Homo sapiens: one gene and its partners. The protein of the gene in region 1 interacts with the protein of each later gene in a pairwise test. Each region holds a gene or a part of one and is shown on either strand. Other genes may lie near its edges.

The links.
Region 2: the proteins of SCAPER (region 1) and NUP58 interact in binary tests that used the Homo sapiens proteins (3 or more experiments, as listed by UniProt).
Region 3: the proteins of SCAPER (region 1) and APPL1 interact in a two-hybrid assay, tested with the Homo sapiens proteins (one large-scale study listed by BioGRID and IntAct).
Region 4: the proteins of SCAPER (region 1) and alpha-crystallin A2 chain interact in binary tests that used the Homo sapiens proteins (3 or more experiments, as listed by UniProt).
Region 5: the proteins of SCAPER (region 1) and CHAT interact in binary tests that used the Homo sapiens proteins (3 or more experiments, as listed by UniProt).
Region 6: the proteins of SCAPER (region 1) and GDAP1 interact in binary tests that used the Homo sapiens proteins (3 or more experiments, as listed by UniProt).

The regions. Positions count from the first base shown.
Region 1 is NC_000015.10:76,349,341-76,352,840, reverse strand, and holds part of SCAPER (S phase cyclin A-associated protein in the endoplasmic reticulum), read left to right. Parts: intron 1-1,552; coding exon 1,553-1,604; intron 1,605-3,500. UniProt on the Homo sapiens protein: CCNA2/CDK2 regulatory protein that transiently maintains CCNA2 in the cytoplasm.
Region 2 is NC_000013.11:25,308,125-25,311,624, forward strand, and holds part of NUP58 (nucleoporin p58/p45), read left to right. Parts: intron 1-1,122; coding exon 1,123-1,158; intron 1,159-3,500. UniProt on the Homo sapiens protein: Component of the nuclear pore complex, a complex required for the trafficking across the nuclear membrane.
Region 3 is NC_000003.12:57,244,729-57,248,228, reverse strand, and holds part of APPL1 (DCC-interacting protein 13-alpha), read right to left. Parts: intron 2,154-3,500; coding exon 2,007-2,153; intron 835-2,006; coding exon 752-834; intron 37-751; coding exon 1-36. UniProt on the Homo sapiens protein: Multifunctional adapter protein that binds to various membrane receptors, nuclear factors and signaling proteins to regulate many processes, such as cell proliferation, immune response, endosomal trafficking and cell metabolism.
Region 4 is NC_000021.9:6,498,044-6,502,002, forward strand, and holds the start of alpha-crystallin A2 chain, read left to right. Parts: upstream 1-1,159; 5' UTR 1,160-1,730; intron 1,731-2,976; 5' UTR 2,977-3,151; intron 3,152-3,959. Other genes in the region: splicing factor U2AF 35 kDa subunit-like protein, read right to left, coding at 1,086-1,129. UniProt on the Homo sapiens protein: Contributes to the transparency and refractive index of the lens. In its oxidized form (absence of intramolecular disulfide bond), acts as a chaperone, preventing aggregation of various proteins under a wide range of stress conditions.
Region 5 is NC_000010.11:49,648,537-49,652,036, reverse strand, and holds part of CHAT (choline O-acetyltransferase), read right to left. Parts: coding exon 3,430-3,500; intron 2,530-3,429; coding exon 2,401-2,529; intron 154-2,400; coding exon 31-153; intron 1-30. UniProt on the Homo sapiens protein: Catalyzes the reversible synthesis of acetylcholine (ACh) from acetyl CoA and choline at cholinergic synapses.
Region 6 is NC_000008.11:74,356,903-74,360,402, forward strand, and holds part of GDAP1 (ganglioside-induced differentiation-associated protein 1), read left to right. Parts: intron 1-3,234; coding exon 3,235-3,408; intron 3,409-3,500. UniProt on the Homo sapiens protein: Regulates the mitochondrial network by promoting mitochondrial fission.

The DNA of each region.
Region 1 (3,500 bases):
AATTTTACAGTATATAACATCATATCAACACTTAGGATTCTTCATATATTTTTAGAGCCTTAGGATTAAATTAAATAGAAAATACATTATGGACCAGGTGTGGTGGCTCACATCTGTAATCCCAGCACTTTGGGAGGCCGGGGTGAGCAGATCACTTGAGGTCAGGAGTTTGCGACCAGCCTGGCCAACATAGTAAAACGCCGTCTCTGTGGGCACCTGTAATCCCAGCTACTCGGGAGGCTGAGGCAGGAGAGTAGCTTGAACCTGGGAGGCAGAGGTTGCAGTGAGCCAAGATCATGCCACTGAACTTCAAGCTGAGTGACAGAGCGAGACTCCATCAAAAAAAAAAAAAAAGAAAATACAAATACATTATGGATAATTTTAAGAGTGTGCTCTTTCTAAATTCAGATTATTCATTCTTTTATTGAACAGGTAATTTTTGAGTGTGTAAGGTGTGCTGGGCACTGCAAATACAGCAACAAATAAAACAGATAAAAATTCCTGCCTTCACAGATCTTTCATTAAAGTGGAGAAGAGTCAAGCAAAAGACAAAAAAAAAATTAGTAAAACAAATAGTATGTCAGATACTATGCTAAGTGCTATGGCAATAAGTGCTGTGGAGAAAAGTAAGGCAGGAAAAGGAGCTAGGGACTTCAGGGAGATGATGTGCAGGTTTTTATGATGTGGGCAGAGAGGCTTCAACAAAGAGACAGTGATGTTTGAGCGAAACCAATTTCACATCTGTATCAGCTTAGTTCCTTATGTTTTCAACTGCATAGACAATGACTTATAATGATACAAATGATATCAGGATCTAAAGATTATATATATTTCTTGTGTTTATCTGATATTGATCACAAAGTACTAAGTCTACCTTTGTCTTACAAAAAAAATCTGTAACATAAATTTTGTAAATGCTAAAAAAAATTTCTTATATTGTTTATTTCAGATAGCATATTAGACTTGTAGAGTTAAATCAAGTGTTTTTCTATAAATAATTGTGCTCAAGAGAATGAATATAGATAGGATTTTAGTTTATAATGTGGTTCCTCAAGGTCTCTTATGTGTTACATTATAACTGAGTTACTAGAAAATGATATTAAAATAGCAGCTGGTTGTCTTAGGTTTCTGAAGATTTACATATTTTATATTACATTTTTCATTTTCCATCTACATGCAAAATTACCAGACTTTAAGATTTAGCTGCAGAATACATAGAGCTTTCATATTTGTACTTTTTAAAAAAATGATCAACACCTGTTGATATTTTAAGATAGTAAATTTGGCTTAAATTTTAGTTTTATTAGATAAAAAGTTGTAATTTCCAAAGTAGGCAGCAAGTTGTCCCCTGGTGATAATTTAGCAAGATGTAAGTCATTACTATTTATGAGAACCTGCACTACGTAACATCAGTTTCTTCAGCGTTTATATTTGGGCCCCAAAATATTCATACAAAAGTGGTTGCATGAATCAGAAGTATATTTAAAGCCACCCTTAGTGAAATTCTCTGTTCATAGCATTGATAGAAAAACACTTTTCTCTCCTCATACAGGATTTGGCACAGACTCCAGGTCAAGCGGAAAACCAGCCTTACCAACCCAAAGGTATGTCTCTATTGAAATTAAATTTCATGTGTTTGTTAGCCAAATGGACATCTTTCTTATCCTTTCCTCTGGAACTGCTACATTATATGTAAAATTTTATACATAACCTAAAAATATTTGAGATTCAGATACCAAGTATATTTCAGTAAGTAAAGAAATCGATTTTGTCATGAAGCATGAATGCATCCAAATATGTATAGAAATCTGTGGGAGTAAAAGAAAAGCACAAATATCTTTGTATAATTTATAATCATCTCATGCAAGATATATTAAATGGTAAATAATTACTAAAGAGCCGCTTTGTAATACAGGAGCCAGATCATTAATACTGGCCCACATTTCTCACATAAATGCTGAAATCACATAGGTTTGGTTCCTTATCCATGTTCAGAATAAAGTTATCAGTAATAGTAGCCCACAGTTTCCCCCCAAGTTCAAGTAGTTGAACTTTTGTTTTGAAAATAATTGTTTTACATGGAGAAAAAGTCATCTAATTGGCAAAGTCCAGGGCAAAAGATTTACAAGTTGTTTTTTTTTCCTATAGCATTCCTGCTGGGGTGTTTGCTGTGATCAGAGTTAGAGATGTAGAATTTTTACCACATTTTTACTTTTTTAAATATTCTGCTACCCAGACTGTAATTGAGAAGTACAAGTTGCTCTTTGGGTGTTATGACAGCATCTCTGATGAATGAGAACCTAATCCAGATCTTCTTCAATTCTTCCATTAGTTTGATAGTCTTTAAAGTGGCCATTTAGAGGTACACTCCCAGCAGGACCCTTTAGGGCACCCACCAAGAAACCCTTACTTGGTGGGGGTGGGGGTGTTACCTTGGACTCTTTCACACACACACACACACACACACACACACAAAGTCCTCTACAGTGGACAGGTGTTGAAAAGTGCACAGAAGAAAATATAACTAAAGCTATTACAATATCATGAAAAGAAAAAAAAAAGACGTTTTATTGACTCAGGCACCCAGAAAAGTTAAACAGAAAGCTATGCAACTTTTCAGAAATTCAAGTCCACATCCTTGTCGGTACCATTTGTCTGAGCAAGAATTAGTCTGCAAGTTCAGTTCTGCCCTGACCCAGTCACAGCCCTTTTTTTGTTTTGTTTTGTTTTAACTACTGGAGGATACTTGGGGAGAAATCAGCAAAATGTGTTACTGTTCTTACAAAACAATTTCATTTTGAATAAATTAAAATGCTTAGAAAAATCTAATGTATTTATTTTCAATTGTACAGCAGTTTTGTTTTGTTTTGTTTGCCACTAAGAAGTATAAGCATTTTTTTCTTACTCTTTCTCCTGATCATAAAGATGAGTCACAATTTGTTACATTGTCTGGAAGACACAGTCCCAGAAGCTGCCTCTCTCTGCTTGGTGGACTGAGGCCTGTGGAAGTCTCAACCTTCTTTCTTTTCCAAGGGACCATCTTCCCTGATTTTCATGCTTTCCCCCAGTTACAGTAGGCTTAACCCACAGAACAGCAAAGGGGGAATTGGTCTCTCCTTTGCTCAGAAAGGGTCATCACTATGTTAATGACAGCTCATAATATGTTGCTTGATTTTTTTTTTAATGATGATGCCTAAGTTGCCAGTTTGCACCTTGGGTATTTGTTCCCCTTTTGCCTAGATTAAGTCCTCATAAAATGTCTCAAGATATTTTGAGTTCATTGTCCAGGTAAACCTTTAAATATAAAAGCAGCTCTTGGTAATACCACATTCCTATTGCCCAGGAAGAATTTTGGTTTTCAAATACCTACTGCCTGTCTAGCTGCAATTGTTTACTTTACCTATGTCACTGGCCAGTAAAGCTCCTATCATTCATTCCTACTGCTTTGTTAGATAGGCTGTGCTATATTTGAATAATTTTAAAGATATACTTAAAACTAC
Region 2 (3,500 bases), on another chromosome or scaffold:
ATTGACTGTCATCTACTCTGATATAACGAAGGAAAACATACAAATATTAATTTAAATTTTTGGATTATATAATGTAGTGTTTTTCCTTAGTGGAGATTGTGGTTTAAGCCAGCTTTATCAATTTGGAACATTAACATACGTGAGATAATCAGCACCCTTACTGTAACATAATTTCTATTTTTTTTCTTTTTTTAGATACACAGTCTTGCTCTGTTGTCTAGGCTGGAGTGCAGTGGCATGATCATGGCTCACTGTAGCCTTGCAGCCTCTCGGGCCCAAGTGATCCTCCCACCTCAGCCTCCTGAGTAGATGGGACCACACGTGTGCACCACCACGCCTGGCTAATTTTTTTTTTTTTTTTTTTACTTTTTTACTTTTTGTAGAGAAGAGGTCTCCTCCTGGTCTTAAATTCCTGAGGTCAAGTGATCCTCCTGCTTTGGCCTCTCAGAGTGCTGGGATTATAGGCCTGAGTTACCATGCCTGGTCTATAATTTACGTTCCTAAGAGATGTTTTACATTTTTGTATTATTAAAACAAAGTGGGAAAAGGGCAATAGGTAAAGGACTTGAAGGTTTCAAAACAATAGAAAGTTTTTGTTTTTAGTACAGCTGGAAAAATAATGTTTCACTGGAGCTGACCATTTAAAAAGTTTGCTTCTTTATTTACCCCTTATTTTCTACCCTTAGAGCCTCTTGGTCATTCTTACTACTTTTTGCGTTGATCTTCCAGCTTTGAGTGCAGCACATTTCACAGCCACATCTAGAAAATGGAAGAACTACAGGAATAAATATGAGCAGATTAGTCAGTGAGCTGCTTGAGACAGCTCAGTATAGCATTTTGTTTGGAGTTGCTTTTTTTGGTCTTGCTTAATTTTGTTATAAGCAATAGTTATTTGCATTTTATAAATTTTATTCCTTAATCAAATTATGTATGGCTTGTAATATGAAAACCAGTGCTATGGGAAAAATGCGTGATTAGTGGCAGATACTATGATATGTATTGTTCTAATTAGAAGTGTTGTCACTCCCTGAGGGTGATTTTAAGTCTTTCCCTTATGACAGGTAAACCTAAAGAATGTCATCTTCATTGATGATTAAATTTTATTTCTCTTTTTGTCCCCAGGAATAGCAACAACTATAACTACAGGATTAACTCTGGGTAAGAATTTTTGAGGAAAGATCCCAGCTCTGTGGTCTTCTAATAATTTTAATAAATTGAGTGATCTTTCTACTCTTCTCTCTTCTAATATTTCACAGAGCTGGAGTATAGAAAAAAGTGTGTATCACAGATGGTGACTTATCGGAGAACCTTTCAGTATTTGAGTAGTGAAAAAAAGGAATGACTTCGTAGAGTACTTTTATAATTCAGAAAAGTATTTTAAATGCAGAAATTGTTTTTAATGTGGAAGTTTATTTCATATTACTTTTTTAGTCATTTGACTCCAGTTAGTGGAAAAAACACCAAACTTTAAGCCAGAAATTTTGGAATTAAGCCTCTAAAATACTTGTGAGGCCTTAGGTAATGTTTGGGGCTTTTAGTTATCTATAAAATTGAGGGTATTGAACTAATATCCAAAGACATAATACTTTCTGTAGTGTTAACGCTAAAGGGAATGTGAATAACTAGGGTTTCAGCCAGCTTTCAATCTGGATGGCAGTAAACAATGTGAAAGGAAAGGAAAAGGAAATGAAAGAACATTCAGAAGCTCTTAAATTGAATTTTAAGTTAAAGGAAAGGAAAAGGAAATGAAAGAACATTCAGAAGCTCTTAAATTGAGTTTTAAGTTAAGGATTGGCAGACTTTCTTCATTTGGATGCTACACCTGTTATTAACAGAAAACAACACATCTGTTTATCAGCAAAGTTTTGGACTGGATCAGCTGCAAACACAAGCAAGTGAATCTTCTTGTTTTCTTTTTTGCTTTTTTTTCCCCTATCAGACAGGTTCTTCCTCTGTTGCCCAGGCTGGAGTGCAGTGGCACCATCACAGCTCACTGCAACCTCAAACTCTTGGGCTCAAGCGATCTTCTCTGGGGTTCCCAAGTAGCTAGGACTACAGGCACATACCACAACCCTTGGCTAATTTTTTTTTTTTTTTTTTTTTTTTTTTTTTAGAGACGGAATTTTGCTCTTGTTGCCCAGGCTGGAGTGCAATGGTGCAATCTTGGCTCACCGCAACTTCCGCCTCCTGGGTTCAAGTGATTCTCTTGCCTCAGCTTCCTGAGTAGCTGGGATTACAGGCATGTGCCACCACGCCTGGCTAATTTTGTATTTTTAGTAGAGATGGGGTTTCTCCATGTTGGTCAGGCTGGTCTCGAACTCCCAACCTCAGGTGATCCACCCGCCTTGGCCTTCCGAAGTGCTGGGATTACAGGCGTGAGCCACTGTGCCTGGCCTTTTTTTTTTTTTTTTTTTTTTTGGTAGAGACAAGGTCTCAGTATGTTGCCTAGGCTGGTCATGGACTCCTAGCCTCAAGCCACGTGCCCTCTTTGGCCTCCCAAAGTGCTGGGATTACAGGCTTGAGCCACACCAAGCCTGAGTCTTGTTTTCTGAGGTTGTAACCCCATACGTGATTTCAAAGCACTGCACTCTGGCAGGAACTTCTAGTTGTGATCAGGGCAATCCAGAAGCATAGTTTCTGGCTTCTTTTCTCTCAGTGATTTCAGGTTAAGTCATGCAGGTCATTCATACATTTCTTTATTTAATATTGTTTGAGCAGTTACTACTTCCTAACCATGCAGCCTTGTGTCTACATAATGCCTTGAACATTGAATATTGTGGCACTGCTGGTGAGGATGGTCCTTGATGATGACATTGGGAACTGCTAAGGGTTGGAGCAAGACAGTCAGTCTGTTGTGAGGTGAAAGGGATAGGCAGGTATATTAACATGTTCTTGTATAATCCGATAAATGTCCTAAAAGATGTAGAGGCACCATGAAAGGCAGAGGAAGAAAACAGTATGGTTTACTTTATGGGCAGGAAGCACTTCAGAGAGAGGAGTGGCAAGTGCAAAGGCCCAGTCATAAAAGCGTTCTGGGAAATATGAAGTATTTTGGTTTTGGAGCTTAGAAATCAGAGGTGGAAATGGTGGGCAGAGTTGAGAATTGAGGAGCAGGTTGGGACCAGATAGGAAAGGGAGGTATATGTCGTGCCTTTAGACTCTATTTTAAAGACAATCTAGAGCTAATAGGAACCTTAAATTGGGCAGAATCACCAGGATATTTGTGGGGGTTTTTTGTTTGTGTTTTCTTTTTGTTTTTGTTTTTTATGAGACGGAGTTTTGGTCTTGTTGCACAGGCTGGAGTGCAATGGCGTGATCTCAGCTCACCACAACCTCTGCCTCCCAGGTTCAAACAATTCTCCTGTCTCAGCCTCCCGAGTAGCTGGGATTACAGGCATGCGCCACCACGCCCAGCTAATTTTGTATTTTTAGTAGAAACGGGGTTTCACCATGTTGGCCAGGCTGGTCTCGAACTCCTGACCTAAGGTGATCTGCCCACT
Region 3 (3,500 bases), on another chromosome or scaffold:
ATGGTCTCTATATCACTGTCCATTTCCCTGCGAACACTGACACAGAACAGATTATTTGCTACAAATCACAACCAATAAAGAACTCCTTACCAATCATGTTTACCTGCATATTTGTTTCGGGTATGTTTTCTTAAAGAGAGGAAGAGCGGCATGGGTGGTTAAAACAACACGAATATATTTTAAAACAGGTTTACAGTTTATTTGAAACTTAGATATTTTGGAAACAATACTAAATTCAAAAAACAAATGAAGCCCCCCGAATGCCTGATTTTGGCGTAATTTTCAAACTGTTCTGCCCTGTGCCTTTAAAACAACAATCACTTTCATCTCTCTCCATACCGTGGACTGACCACATACACTGCTCGGCATTTTGAACCTGATAAGAACTGCTTTCTCTCTAAGCTTTCATGGCTTGGAAACAATATTTAGTAATCTCCCATCAAACTCCCACAATTTCAAGTTTAAAGATAATTTCACTTATGGGGAGTTACTATTATGTGTCTGTTATATTCAGACATAAAACTGAGTGTAGAATCAATAAAATTATCACTATTATGAAATTCAAAGTTCACAATCTGTGGAAAAAAGAGGTTAAAAAAAAACAAGAAGTAACCATGAACCACATAAGAAACTCTCATGGCAGGGAAAATATTCCCTCAGGAAAGTAAATGATAAATATCTTTACATTATGTCATTGAGCTGTTATCATTCACATCATTTCATTTTCAATTTTAAGGAAAAAAATACTTACTTCTGAACGCTTGTTCCAATATTAGCTAAAAATTCTTCCAGTTGTTCATTAAGATTTTCAGAACCCATCTTAAAGAAACTTATCTGGAGAGTGGGGAGTGGGGGGAATTGAACAATACAAAAATAGATTAAGCAATACTTAAAGTAAATCATATAAACAATCTCTAAGACACATGGTTAAGTAAAAAACAAAGGAATATTCCCATTTGTGTAAAAATACATTGTAGTTTGTGACTTCTACTGCACAGGGAGCCATTAAGGAAGTTAGACTTAAATTCCACTGCATATCCTTTTATATTTTTTGAATTGGAACAAGTAATATATACATATGGTTAACAATCTTTTAAAATTGGAAAATAAATTTTAAAGTATTTCCAATAAATTATATAAAGTATTTCATGTTTACTACAAAGATAAGTTTTCTATCTGAGGAATAATCAGTAAAGTACTCTTTTACCTAAATAGATTCAATTTTTTTTTTTTTTTTTGAGACAGGGTCTCGTCTGTCATCCAGACTGCACAATAAAACCTCACTGCAGCCTCAGCCTCCTAGGCTCAAGGGATCCTTCCATTTCAGCCTCCCAAGTTGCTGGGATCACCGAGGCATGCTACCAAGCCCAGCTAATTTTTTCATTTTTTGTAGAGATGGGGTCTCCCTACGTTGCTGAGGCTAGTCTCAAACTCCTGGACTCAAATGATCCTCCTACCTCGGCCTACCAAAGTGCTCGATTATAGGCATAAGGCACCGTGCCTGCCCTCAATTTTCTTTAAACTCTTGATTTTTAGGAGACTGACACTTTGTCTTATACTACCCAAATTTTCTAGCCCCCTTCCTGATGTACTCTTTGGGCACGTTGGAGTTCATCTATTATTTTTAACTCAGGAAGTATGCAAGGAATATGGGATAAACTCAAACTTGTTTATTCTTTTTCAGATCTATTATGAAGCAAGTGTTTAGTTGAAGCTCTAGCAATAGGTGTAACTCTGAAATTCATTTAGTTCTCTCAGTCCCCAGCTATGGTGAACAAGTGGTTTCATTTACCTAAAATATTTGAAATCTTCATTTGCAAGGAAAACCATTCTTCCTAACTTCCTTAAAATAATAGTCTGATGACATTTTAAAAATAACTTCTTAAAACACAGACATAAACAAGGATGTTGAAAATAGTTTATAATACCCTTATACTTAATGTAAATATCAAGCTTAATATAAAACTTTTAGGACAGTTATAATCCAAATACAGTACAGTATTTACCTGAGCTTGCATGTACCCAAGTAGAGGTTCTAACAATGCTATTTTCTTCTTGTACTGAAGAGTATTTAATGCACAAAAATAATGCATCATGGTCTGGTGTTGTTTCTTTCTGGATGTGTACACATCTTCTGTTACTTCATACTTCACCTTTGAATGAAAAGATTTAAATAATTAAGTAAATAATCTGCTATTATTTACTTAATTTTGTATTATCTTCAGTAGGAGCTGTGGAGAAGAGCCTACCCAAGGAATTGAGTATCACAAGCAATTGAGCATTAATGTTCCTGTTTTCTGATCTTTTAGAAATCCTTCAACATACTGGTTAAGCAAATTTTCCTGTTTAACTTCCAACCACATAATTTACAAAATGCACATTGAGCCCAGGCGTGGTGGCTCATGCCTGTAATCCCAGCACTTTGGGAGGCCGAGGCGGGACGATCACTTGAGGTCAGGAGTTTAAGAACAGCCTGGCCAACATGGTGAAACCGACTCTATTAAAAATGGAAAAAAAAATTAGCCAGGTGCAGTGGTACACACCTATAATTCCAGCTACTGGGGAGGCCGAGGCATGAGAATAGCTTCACCCTGGGAGGGGGAGGTTGCAGTGAGCCAAGATCACACCACTGTACTCCAGCCTGGGTGACAGAGAGAGACTGTCTCAAAAAAAAAAAAAACTGCATATTGAAAACAGAATTCTGTACGTAACTAAGAATGGTACAATAACTAAACTAAGCATGGCAGAGAAAGCTTACGACAAGGAGGAATGGCAGACAATTGTTTGTTATTAGCTTAGTCATTAGTCTTTGACTTTGATCAGTTCACAGCATACCATTCTCCCCTCCTGGTTCTCTCCCTATCAGTCTTCCTCTCTTGCACTTGCTTGTCTTCCTTCACCCATACTTGAAATACGTGTGCTCCCTAGAGTTCTTTTATTCAGACAACAAATATTTATTGAATACCTATTATGTAATAGGCATTAGGTTCTTCTGCCTTCCTGCTTTCCTTAGAATCCTCAAGTACGAAGAATATTCTAATATTCCAATACACCAATGACTCAATGACTCACAAATTTTATCTCCTCCCTCTCACCTTCCCAAGTGACAGAGTAAACACATCTCCAGCTGGGTTCTTTATGTGTGTTTATGTGCTAAAAATGTACAAAACTGAAGATAGTTTTGTACACAAAACCTGTTCTTCTGCTTTGTTTCTTACCTTTCTTAATTACTACAGGATCCATCCAGACATCCAAGAAATCTAGGACTCATTTTTTATTCCTCCTATTACCACAAGTCTTGTCAATTCTACTTAAAAAAATATCTCCCAAAAGTACTCCTTCCTCTCCATTTTCAGTAACAACCTTAGCTGAGGCCTTCATTGTATCTCTGCAAACTATTCCAATTCCTTTCACTGGATATCCTCTAGTCTTGTCCTCTTCACATTTTCATTAGTATGTTTGTTCTATAACACAATTGCATGATGTTATTCACCTACTTA
Region 4 (3,959 bases), on another chromosome or scaffold:
GTGGCATTAAAAACATCTATGACAAACTTAGGGGTTTATCATTGAAAACATAAAGTCATGTTAACTTTGTATGGCACTGAAGAATGCCAAGATAACTAAAGAGTAGATTAAGCCAGATGCTGAGTCTTTAGGTTTTCAAAGTAAGAATTATCCTTCAAACGTCTGAAAACATTCCATTTAGTCTAAACTACAGCCAACTCACTGGAAATTAGTACGTGCCAAGGTGGCAATTAAAGCTGAAATTAAATGTTTTGCTTTTAACCTAACGATTGATTAGGGAAGGCATGCAACCTTAAGGAAAAAATCAAAACATCTTTTTCCTTATATCAGAATTGTGTCTTCAAGAACAGTCACCGACTTACAAATTTTCAACTTAGATGATGGGTTTATCGGGGTATTAAAGGCATTTTCGATTCATGATGGGTTTATCGGAACGCAATCCCATGGTAAATCCAGGAGCACCTGTATGTTAAGAGCGGATCACGTCTCTTGTGGTTAGATAGTTAATCCAGTAGTCTCCACCATACTTTTTCTCGTCATATCTCCTTACTGCCGGCCCAGCGGTCGCTTAAACAGGCAAGAGGCTGGCTAAGTGGATAAAACACCAACGCTTAGGACCCTAAGTTAGATAAGCGACTGAATACTGGCGAGGCTGGTACCAGAGCTTGCTCGACAGGACATTCACAGCCGAAAGTTGGAACAAACGTGTCCACGTCCAAAAGGCCCGGATGCTCCAGGCAACTTTCAGCGCGGCTCGAGGCGGCTTCCGGGAGCCGGCGACTCGGAGGCCCGGACGTCGGGCGATCAGCCAGTTCGGACCCCAAGGCCGGAGAAAGCTCGGCCGCGGCGCCCCGAAAAGAGACCCCATTCATTCTCCCCGCTCCATTTTTCCGCCGCGCGGCCCACGAGGCGGCGGCTCCGGAGGGCGCGCAAGGGGCCGGAAGGGCCACCGCTCCTTCCCGCCGCGCGCCCCTCCCCCGCCACCGCCGCGCCGGCCCGCCTGGGCCTCCCCGGTCGCCCTCCCACCGCCTCAACCACCCTGCGCCCCGATCGCGCCCAACCCCCGGCGGGGGGCTCCCACTCACTTGTCTTTCTCGGTGCCGAAGATGGAGGCCAGATACTCCGCCATTTCCCACCCGCCGCCGCCGCTGCCGTCGACACTGCTGCCGACGCCGCCGACCCTGCCGACGCCCGCGGGAGACGTCACCCGGACGCGACGACGCTCTTCCCCGCCCCGACGTGGCAGCGCTACCCAGTCAGGCGAGGTGCTGCCTGCGCGTGGGCGGGACGCATGCGCGTAGGGAGCACGTAGTGCGCGTGGGAGGCTCCGCCTTTTCGGTCCTGGGAACCCGCGCCCCCTGCCGGTGCCCTCCCCGCCCGGCCCTAGCTCTCTCGCCTTCTCGCCCGCCCGGCGCTGGCCCTGCTGGATCCTGCGCGCCGGGGACTGGGGGCTGGCAGTGCAGACCGAACCCGGGGCCGAGGGGCTTCTCCACAGAGCCGCCTGGGGCTCGGTGGGGGGCGCTCAGCTCGACCCCAGCTAAGGGAGCACTAGGAAGTGCGGGCGTCCCCTTCCCTGCACCCTTGCGGGGCGGGAACCGTCGACCTAGAAGAAAAAAAAAGCTGAGGCAAACTTGATATAAGTAGAGAGGTTATTTGGGCCAAGTTTGAAGATTGCAACCCGGGAGCATAGCTTCAAGTTGCCCTGAACATAGGATTTGCAACAGTGACAAGTGGGTTTATAAAGCTTAAGAGGGGGGCAGTTCTTAAATAGCTCACCAAGAATTTACATGAAAATAACAAGCTATTAATTGGCTGTACGTTGTTCTTTATATCATAATTCCAGGAAAGGAAGTTCATGGGTGAAGGCAGCGGGTCCGGAGCAATAGTGCCTTTAAACAATTGCCAGGCATGGGTGGGGACCGCTGAAGCCGCATAGACCTGTCTCTCCGGGCCGGATTAACCTCGCACGCCTCACATAGCTCGGACGCTCTGTGTTGTTTTTCTCTTCTCACACCCCTCTCCGCTTTACCCTCCCTCAGCGCTTGCCAGGTGCGACCTCCCCGGGGCCCTGCACTCTTGCAGTTGCCTGGCCAAGGCCACCCACAGGTGGAGCTGGAAGGCCAGTGACCTGCCTCTGGGATACCCTTTCAGTCTCCTCATGTCACAAGGCTGGAACCATTCCGTTGGAAGGGTTCTATTCCTCTCCTGCGTTTTAACCCCATCAAGCAGCCATTTTCATCTGGTTTCCCACATTCATCAACTCACCTGCGATTTACCTAATTTCCAACGCAACTATCAACTCTGATTAGGTAGAAGTCAGAGAGACAGGGCCTATTTTACTTACCTCCTCCACAAGATGAGCCCCAGACTGTGGGGCAGGACCATGGGATCCTCTTAGCTCGGCTAGAGCTGAATGCTGAGCTCTAGTGTTTGGGCGGATTTGCGTGTTAGAATTGCATTTCTCTTGGCAACAGAGCATCTTCCTACCTGGGAAAGATGAGCAAACTGGAAACCTGTATTAGAAACAGTAGGGCCTCAGAGGTTTAAACCAAAAAGTATCTTGAGACAGGGCTCAATCAATTTAGAAGTTTATTTTGCCAAGGTTAAGGACAATGCCTGGGAGGAAAAAAAACACGGTATCACAGAAACAGTCTGTGGTCTGTGCCTTTCTCCAAAGATGACTTTGAGGGCTTCAGTATTTAAAGGGGAAAAGTGGGCTGGAGGGGAAAGCGGAACAGTGTGGTAATCCACACGTTGCAAGAGAAAAGAAGCAGGTTGGGAACAGTCGACTGTGTACAGCTCACTCCTCAGCAAATCAGCACTTTACATAAGAGAAGCGGATGTTGAACCTTCTATCTGTAGCCGTCTGCTTAGGAACGAAAGGAAAGGCAGCTGCTTACATGACTCAGCTTTCAGCTCATTCTTTTCCTTTTGACAGAGTGAACTGGGGTCCTGACTTTTGTGTTCCTTTCGCAGAGGTGAGGCCAGAGAAGTGACAAGACAGATGCCAGTCCAGCAGGTGGGCATGTCCAGAAAGTGCAGCCTCAGGACACGGTCTGGGAACAAAGACTGCTGGAGAGTTGGAAGCTGGCAAGAGGCTCTCAGCTGTGAAGTACCTGGGGTGGGGGAGAAGTGGTCGGAGAAAGCAGAGGTAAGGTCTGTGCGTGGGAACTGAACTGAAATCCACAGCTCTATTACAAGGAATTAATCTGGTTACTAGAACCAGGGTAGATGATCAGACCAGGCAGGGCCACCAGTACCATCCACCCATTTTTCCTGAGAAAAGAAAAATAGGGTAGTCTGAGCTCTGTGAGGTGTGCAGAATGATCAGGCCCAGAGAGGCAGGAGTGTGGGACTTCATTCAGCGCCTCTTCCACCATAGAAGCAACTGTCCAGGGCAATTGTTTGATGGAATTTTTGCTCCTGACAGGCTGCCTCACCCATTATCTTCTTGTTCACATGGAATTAGTGATGCTAAGAACGATGCATAGCCAATCAGCACCTTCTGTTATTTTAATGCAAATTCTTGCTAACAACTTAGGGACTGCCTCTTCCTTTTCCTTAAAACCCCACTGTGACTGCTGCTAATGGGAACATATGTTCAGGGCAACCTAGGGGCATGTGCCCAGGGAGCCATCCTCAAGCTTTGGGCTCAAATAAACTCTATACTTAATCATATTTCCTGAATTTCATTATTTGAGGTTGACATTTTGGCAACCCAGATAGGACCTGAAGCAGGCCTTCAGGGATTGCCACTAAGTAGTGGCATCAATAGTTGGAGCCTTGGTACCAGCACAAACGACTGTTGTTTACTCGACCTCACTGGGGCTGGCAGGGGTCTCTGGTAAGGCCAGTCTTGGGATCTGAATCCTCCCAGCTTAGTTGAAGATTGAGACTTACACACTAATAATTTGATAGGGTTAGAACTGAAGCTCCACTGAAAGGTAGGAGTTTCCATT
Region 5 (3,500 bases), on another chromosome or scaffold:
AGGGTACAGACTCACTCCACCTTCACTCACCTGTAGAAGGCCAGCTGGAGGGCCACCTGGATGAAGGCATCAGGGCTGCATTTCTGCTTCTTAATGAATGTTTTCCCATAGTTGTCAAACTTATAGACAATGAAGTCAAGGTTCTTTACTATTCTGAGGAAGAAAAAGAAAAGATGTTTTTATTGCATGCAAAACAGTATGCATGCATCTGGGGTTTCCCCGGGCTTCTAGAGCCTGGTCTGTGTCCTAGCGTTCTGGAAGGTGCGGACGTAGTCCCTGCCCTTCAGGAGTGCACTGAGGTGTCAGAGACATGCCTTGACCTATGAAAGTGTCAGAAGACAAACCAGGCCAGGACTACTATGACCCAAGGTGAGCTCAGCTGAGTGGGGTGTCGGCCCTGCTCTGGAGAGTGGGTGGGGAGGTGGGCCTGGCTGTGTTAGTGAGTCAGGGATTAACTGTGACACAGGTGACATGCCCGGGATTTTGTAATTCACTGTCGGAGTAACAGGAACATTTTCCAAGTCTGCACTGAGACTCTGGAGCACTGGCTGACCCTCATATTGAACAATCTCCTCCTCCATCAGGAGTCTGGGGTCTGAGCTGACTGCCCACTGGAGCAGTGTCTGGCAAGGTCTATGTGCCTCCCCACTGGAGAGCGCATAGCCTGAGTGGGAACCCCGAGCCCACACGCACACCTTCTGTCGGGACTCCATGCTCCCTGCCTGCCTCTCCTTGAAGTATTCCTCCTGCTCACAGCAGCTCAGCTCTCGGTGGGGCCAGGTGCTAGGAACACAGGGGGACTTGGAGGAGACCCAGTTCCCATGAGTACTCGCTCCTTAGACCTACCTGTTGACAGACGTCTGGGACAGACTGAGCTCACTATCACCACAGCCACCTGGAAATCTCTCCCCCAAGCTGTGCCCACTCGGGCCTCACCCACTTGTATGGGCCCCTCAGGACCCCCAGGAAGAAGCCTCCTTCTTCCCCATCCATGGGCCTTTCCTGGCTCTCCTCAGCCTCTGGAGGGTGGAGCTGGGGGCCTTGGGGAATGTGGGGTCTGCTCAGGTCCCTGGAAGTGAGTGGACTCCTTTACCCACTGAGGACTCAGCAGCCCACCAGCTCACTGCCTTGGCCCCTGACTTAGCTCCTGAACAACCCTGCAAAGCTGAGATGTGAGCACCACTTTATAGAACACCTGAGGCCCCTCCATGCCCACTGAAGCCAGGCAACCTCTCCAGCAGCTCCCAGTGGATGGGTCCTTCCCGCTCTTCAGCTTCCCAGCCTGGCCACACTCTGTCCTGCTCACATGTGCCCTTCCCACAGCCTCCTCAGGGGCGTCCCCATACCCCCTGCACAGAACCCTCCAGTGGCAGGGCAGGCTCTAGGCCCATAACAGGACAGTGACACTCATCACAGTGTGGCCCAACTTCCTTTTTGTGGCCCCACTCTGGCCATTCTCTCACTTGCTGGTCTCCAAACCAGCCTTCATCATTATGAACTTGTACAAGCTTGAAGAAGCTGCCTTTCTGCCTCTTCCCCATCTGCTTGCACCATGAACTCCTATCCATCCTTCAAGGCCCGTCTCTACAAGGCCCTCCCTCACAGTCCTGACAGAGTTCAGCTTCTATATTTTTGTGGGTTCAGGTCAGCATGGCTGTTTCTGCTTTTGGCATTAATCTTACTGTATCACATGTTTTGGCCTGGGAGTCTACTTATTCCACTCAAATATGGAGTGCAGGTCCCATGGTACTTAACTTTCTGTGTTCTCAGAGCCTTACCACGGGCCGGGTGCACACCAGAGCTCTGCACATGTTTGATGAATGAATGAGCAAACCAGTGAATGAATGCATTCGTGCTTGCTTACTGAATGGGAGAATCAACAGCTACAGTGCAGACGTGGTTGCCAGGATGTGGCTGCCACCACTGCTTGCTGCTGCCCCAGGCCCTCCTGCCTGGGTCCCGTTAGGGCCTGAACGGCCCCCTCCCCTTGGGGAAAAAGGCCCCTTTGTCAAGTTGCACTGTACATTCAAGCAAATTTAAATAGCTTGAATTCAAATGACCTATTCAAACCAGTTGTTTATTACTCCCCCTAAAGCAGGGGATGATTTCCCGGCCTTGACTCTGCTCAGTCAGGTGAAACTGAAAAAAAAAAAAAAAAAAAAAAAAAAAATAGCCCTGCGTTTGCATTTTAGAGAAATGATGGATACTTCAGCAAGGTTATTTCCCCAGAGTTGTATCTCTCCTTTAATTTGACTACATGAGGGATGGGGACGAGGTGGAGCCCAAGGAGAGGCAGAGGAGCTGGGGTCTTTGGAAACTTCCAGGGAGCCTTGGGAGCTAGTAGGCAAGGGCGGGGTGGTCCCTAGGGGACCCCTCAAAGGAGACTTCGGTTATCCTTACCGTTGAAGTTTTTCTGCCGAGGAGGCTAAGTGGCCTTGAATTTCCGGGGAGCATTTCCACCGCAGCCTCCGGGGGGCGGGGAGCTCGCTGACGGAGTCTGCTCGGATCAGCTTCCTGCTGCTCTGCGTCCTGCGGGCACAGAGGCAACCTCCTGAGGCTCTGCGGCCAGACAGCTGTGGGAGGCATCTCTTCTTTGCTCTGTGCAATCATCTTAGCTGTCAGTGTTTGCGGCCATGGAGTTTCAGGGGGTACGAGCTGCCCCTGAACCACCGTGCAGATGAATAAACTGAGGCTCAGAGAGGCCACCAAAATCATTAAGTGGCAGGGCCAGGGCTCCATCCAGTTCCGCCTGACTCCAAAACCCATTATTTCTTTTCATTGTTTTCCTATTAGACCATGTTACACCCTTACAGAAGACTTGGAGAGAAATTTAAGAGCAAGCTGTGTTGTTCTCTTCTACAAGGTTTGTGCCTACTAGGCTTGGTTTAGGTTTCAGTAACCCTGAGTTTCATGGAAGAAATTGAAGACTTGGATGCAGGGAGAAGATTCTAGGAGAGAATGGGTAAAATTGGGAATAGAGGAAGGAATACCATGTGTTTAGGGCACAGAGGAACCCTGCTGGGGAGCTAAGGAGGGACCCAGCCTTGGGATTTGGAAGCAGTGAGACTCAGAGAACTCCCCCTGTGCTGGGGCAGCCGTGGGCCTGGCCCTGACTCAGGATAAGCAATAGGTATCGATGTAGGCTTCCCCTCTCTCAAGGCAGAGGTTCCTGAGAATTCCTTGCCATGCTTCTCCCTGACTGCCGTAAATCTGCTGCCTCCTATCCATGGCCCGTGAAGCACATGATGTCGCATACAAAGCTGGGTTTCAAATTCATCGTGTGTGTGTGTGTGTGTGTGTGTGTGTGTGTATAGTACACATTTTTTTCAAATTCATCTTTTGTTAAGACGCTTTCCAGACTGACACAGCCCCCAGCGACCACCCACATTTTTTTGGGCCCAGCATGGCAGCCCTGGGATCCAGACTCACACGTGCTTGAGCAGATGCTCAGTGCACTGCACCAGGACGATGCCATCGAATGGGGAGTGTTCGCACACCAC
Region 6 (3,500 bases), on another chromosome or scaffold:
CGGGGTTTCACCATGTTGGCCGGGATGGTCTCTCGATCTCCTGACCTCGTGATCTGCCTGCCTTGGCCTCCCAAAGTGCTGGGATTACAGGCATGAGCCACCGTGCCCAGCCTATTATTGAATTTTTTAAAAATAGCCTAGTGTGTGACTAGTTGAAGGGTACAATATTATTCAGCTGTATTATGCATATTATATACTGATGCAATCACTATACAGTCTAAGTAAAATAAACAGCAAAGGGCTAGAGTGAGGAATGAAATCTAATCTGTTTCCATTGAGCTAGTAGTAAGGGAGACTTGAAAGTTGTACAAGTAGACCTAGGGGAGTCTTTCTTGAAAACAAGGCATAATAATGCCTCCTTTATCTGCCTTTACTAGGAAAGATGGGTAACCAGAGTAGTGAATTTTGTAAAATAATGAAAACTTATGCCTTTAAGCCCCTAATTTCTTTTTATGTTTTACTCTTGGGAAAACCAAATGTAATTTAAAAAAATGGCTCAGAGCCATTGTTATTTTACTCAGCATTACAGGGACTTGAGAATGTAGAGGCCCATTTGTCTCCATTACATGGCTGCAGAATGCTTTTATTGTTTCTTTCTGATTTTATTTTTTGCTTCTTTTGGTTTCCTCTGCTGTTTATCAAATCTTTCTGCTTTATGTCTATCTGCTGGTTTATAATTTGCTGCCTAAATTTATGTGTAATATAAAACTTTTCCCCTACTCAGTTCTTCCGGCAAGTCGGATCTTGTGCCAACTTATTTGTTCTTCTAGCTTAATACCAAGCCTCATTTCCACTGTTGCAATCCCACTCCCCAATGCTGGGACCTCCTCTCATTGCCTGCTTCTTAAAACTCCCTAATTCTCTGTCCTGCCCCGCTATGCCTTATGTTGCTTTCCCACTCCTGATTGAGGTACATTACTGAGAAAAAAATTCTTGCTTTTGGTATTTTGATAAAGGTACTCTACGGAAGAACTGGAAAATAAAATAGGATGGGATTGAGAGGGAAGATCTCCTCTATAATTCAAAGGAAATTCCCAGTTTTCCTTTGAAAAACTCTTTTATCAGAAGCAGCAGATACTGTTGTGCTTCAGTGTGAGGATGGCAGCGCAGTGCCCCTGTGATACTGGAGAGGGCATGCTTGATGCGCACAAAGAAAGAGAGATGGGGAGATAACTTGGGTTCAGTGGGTATCTCATGCTCTGACAGAGTGCTTCAGGAAATGGTTAGACAGTAACGGCACACTGAGTAGAAGAAAATTATTTTCATGGATTTAAACATTTGTCCTCCTTGAAGAATTTGGGCTTGGCCTGATGGATCTTCCCCAGAAAGCAATTAGACATTGTTTTTCCTGCTCTCATTCACTTTCCTAGGAAGGAAATGGTATGCTCTTCTGGAGAGAAGCCCCAGGGCCCAGTACCAGAAAGCAGCCAGAGCCACTAGCCATTACTTGGACCTTTTGGGAAGCATTTGAAAATGTACTATTTAGGGTTATTAGCCTGAGGTTCTTGGACCCCTAAAGCATTAGTTCTTAAACTTTTTGGTCTCTATACCCCTTTGTCTTTGAGGATACCAGAGAGCATTTGTTTATGTGGATCATAGCTATCAATATTTACCATTTAGAAAGCAAAACTGAGAAAACTTAAAATATTAGCCTGGTTAAGCACAATCCCACTAGCTGTCAGAGTGATAGAGTCATGTTTCCTGTAGCCTCTGGAAACTTCTACTGTACACTTGAGAGAGAATAAGAGTGAAAAAGTAATTAACGTCTTAGTATTTCTATAAAAATATCTTTGTAGATCCCCCAAACATGTTTTAGGAAAACCCAGGGATCCTCAGACCATAGTGTGAGAACTGTTGCGCTTAGGGGTTTATGAATAGAATTCAGGAGATTTGAGATCTTGGATAGGGAATAATTGTATCTCTATTTAAAGGAATTATTTCCTTCCATTAGCAATGTAGGCACAATCCATGGCAATATCAGGAGTGCTTCTGGCTTTGATAACCAATAGAACTCACAGATATGTTCATGGTTAAGTTATTGCAGATATCTTAATATTTTGAAATTGTGATAGTTATTAGACCTGACATTTTTTAGGGACAGTTTGACAGCCAGAGATAGGAAGAGATTCTGAAGGGACATAGCCCTGACCTTTGGGTTGCATCCTTCACTTTTATTCTTTTTCGATAGTCTATGAAATGAAAATCCTTTGAAAATGTTATGATGGTATAATCAAAGAGAACATTACATTAGGAATCAGATGACTTTAGTTCTAGCTCTGCCTCTAATTAGCTGTGGGATCTTGGGAGAAATTTTCAGCCCTTGTATCTGAGTGTACATGTTAACTCCTGCAGCACTTCTCCAGCTCAAGTAATCTATATAATAATTGGAAATTTTGGAATGTATTCATTGTAATTTATTAAACACCTACTACATGTCAAACATTATACTAGGCACTGGGGATTTAACAGAGAGCAGTACATGGTCCCTGCCCTCAAGGACTCTACAGTTTGGATTTTAACTAGCAAATAAGGATGTATGTAGAACCCACTTTCCAGAGATAATTGTTAGAAATTCCTGGGGAAAGTGCACCTGCGATATTTGAGCAAAGGCCTTTCCTGTTCCATATAGATTGTCATTCACATTCACATGTGTCAGTAGGGTCACTCTTGATGTTGGTTGGCACCTAGAAAAGAGTAGCCCCTGATTATCTTTCCATAATGAGCCCTCATTCAATTAACCAAACTTTATTGAGGGCCTCAAGTGTGTGGAGAACTGTGCTAGACTCTGGATTGCAGGTTCCTTTCCCTGAAGACAGTCATGGGGAAAAAAGATGCAATGAATTACAGTGTGATAAGGGCTGTAACAGAGTGTGTGTAATGTGTTATGGATGTATAGAAGAAGGCACATGTGAGCCAGTCAGATGTTGGCAGTTGTAGGAGGTTAGGGAATGCTTCATGGAATAAATGGCATAAATAACTGGGCCTTGAGGGCTGAGTGCAGTTTGCAAGGTGAAGAAATGAGAGAATACCAATGTGATTATGGTTTGGGATCTTGTCTGGTGCATCAGGCCATTTCAAACTTTGAATGAATGTCTGAGGTGAGGAGACAGTGTTTTTTGAATATACAGATATGTTGAAAATGTTAATGATGAGTGGATAGTGTTTTTGTTTTGCTTTTGAGTGTAACAACTCATGTGTAACTTTTTCTTCAATATTTGTGTGTGTGTATTTTAGAAAGAACACCCAGGTTAATGCCTGATAAAGAAAGCATGTATTACCCACGGGTACAACATTACCGAGAGCTGCTTGACTCCTTGCCAATGGATGCCTATACACATGGCTGCATTTTACATCCTGAGTTAACTGTGGACTCCATGATCCCGGCTTATGCAACTACAAGGATTCGTAGTATGTAAACATTTTAAAGACCTGGAATTCTGTCTGACACTTTCTTTTAATTCATTTTGAGACCTAGCATGTCTCATGGTCACTAAAAGAAG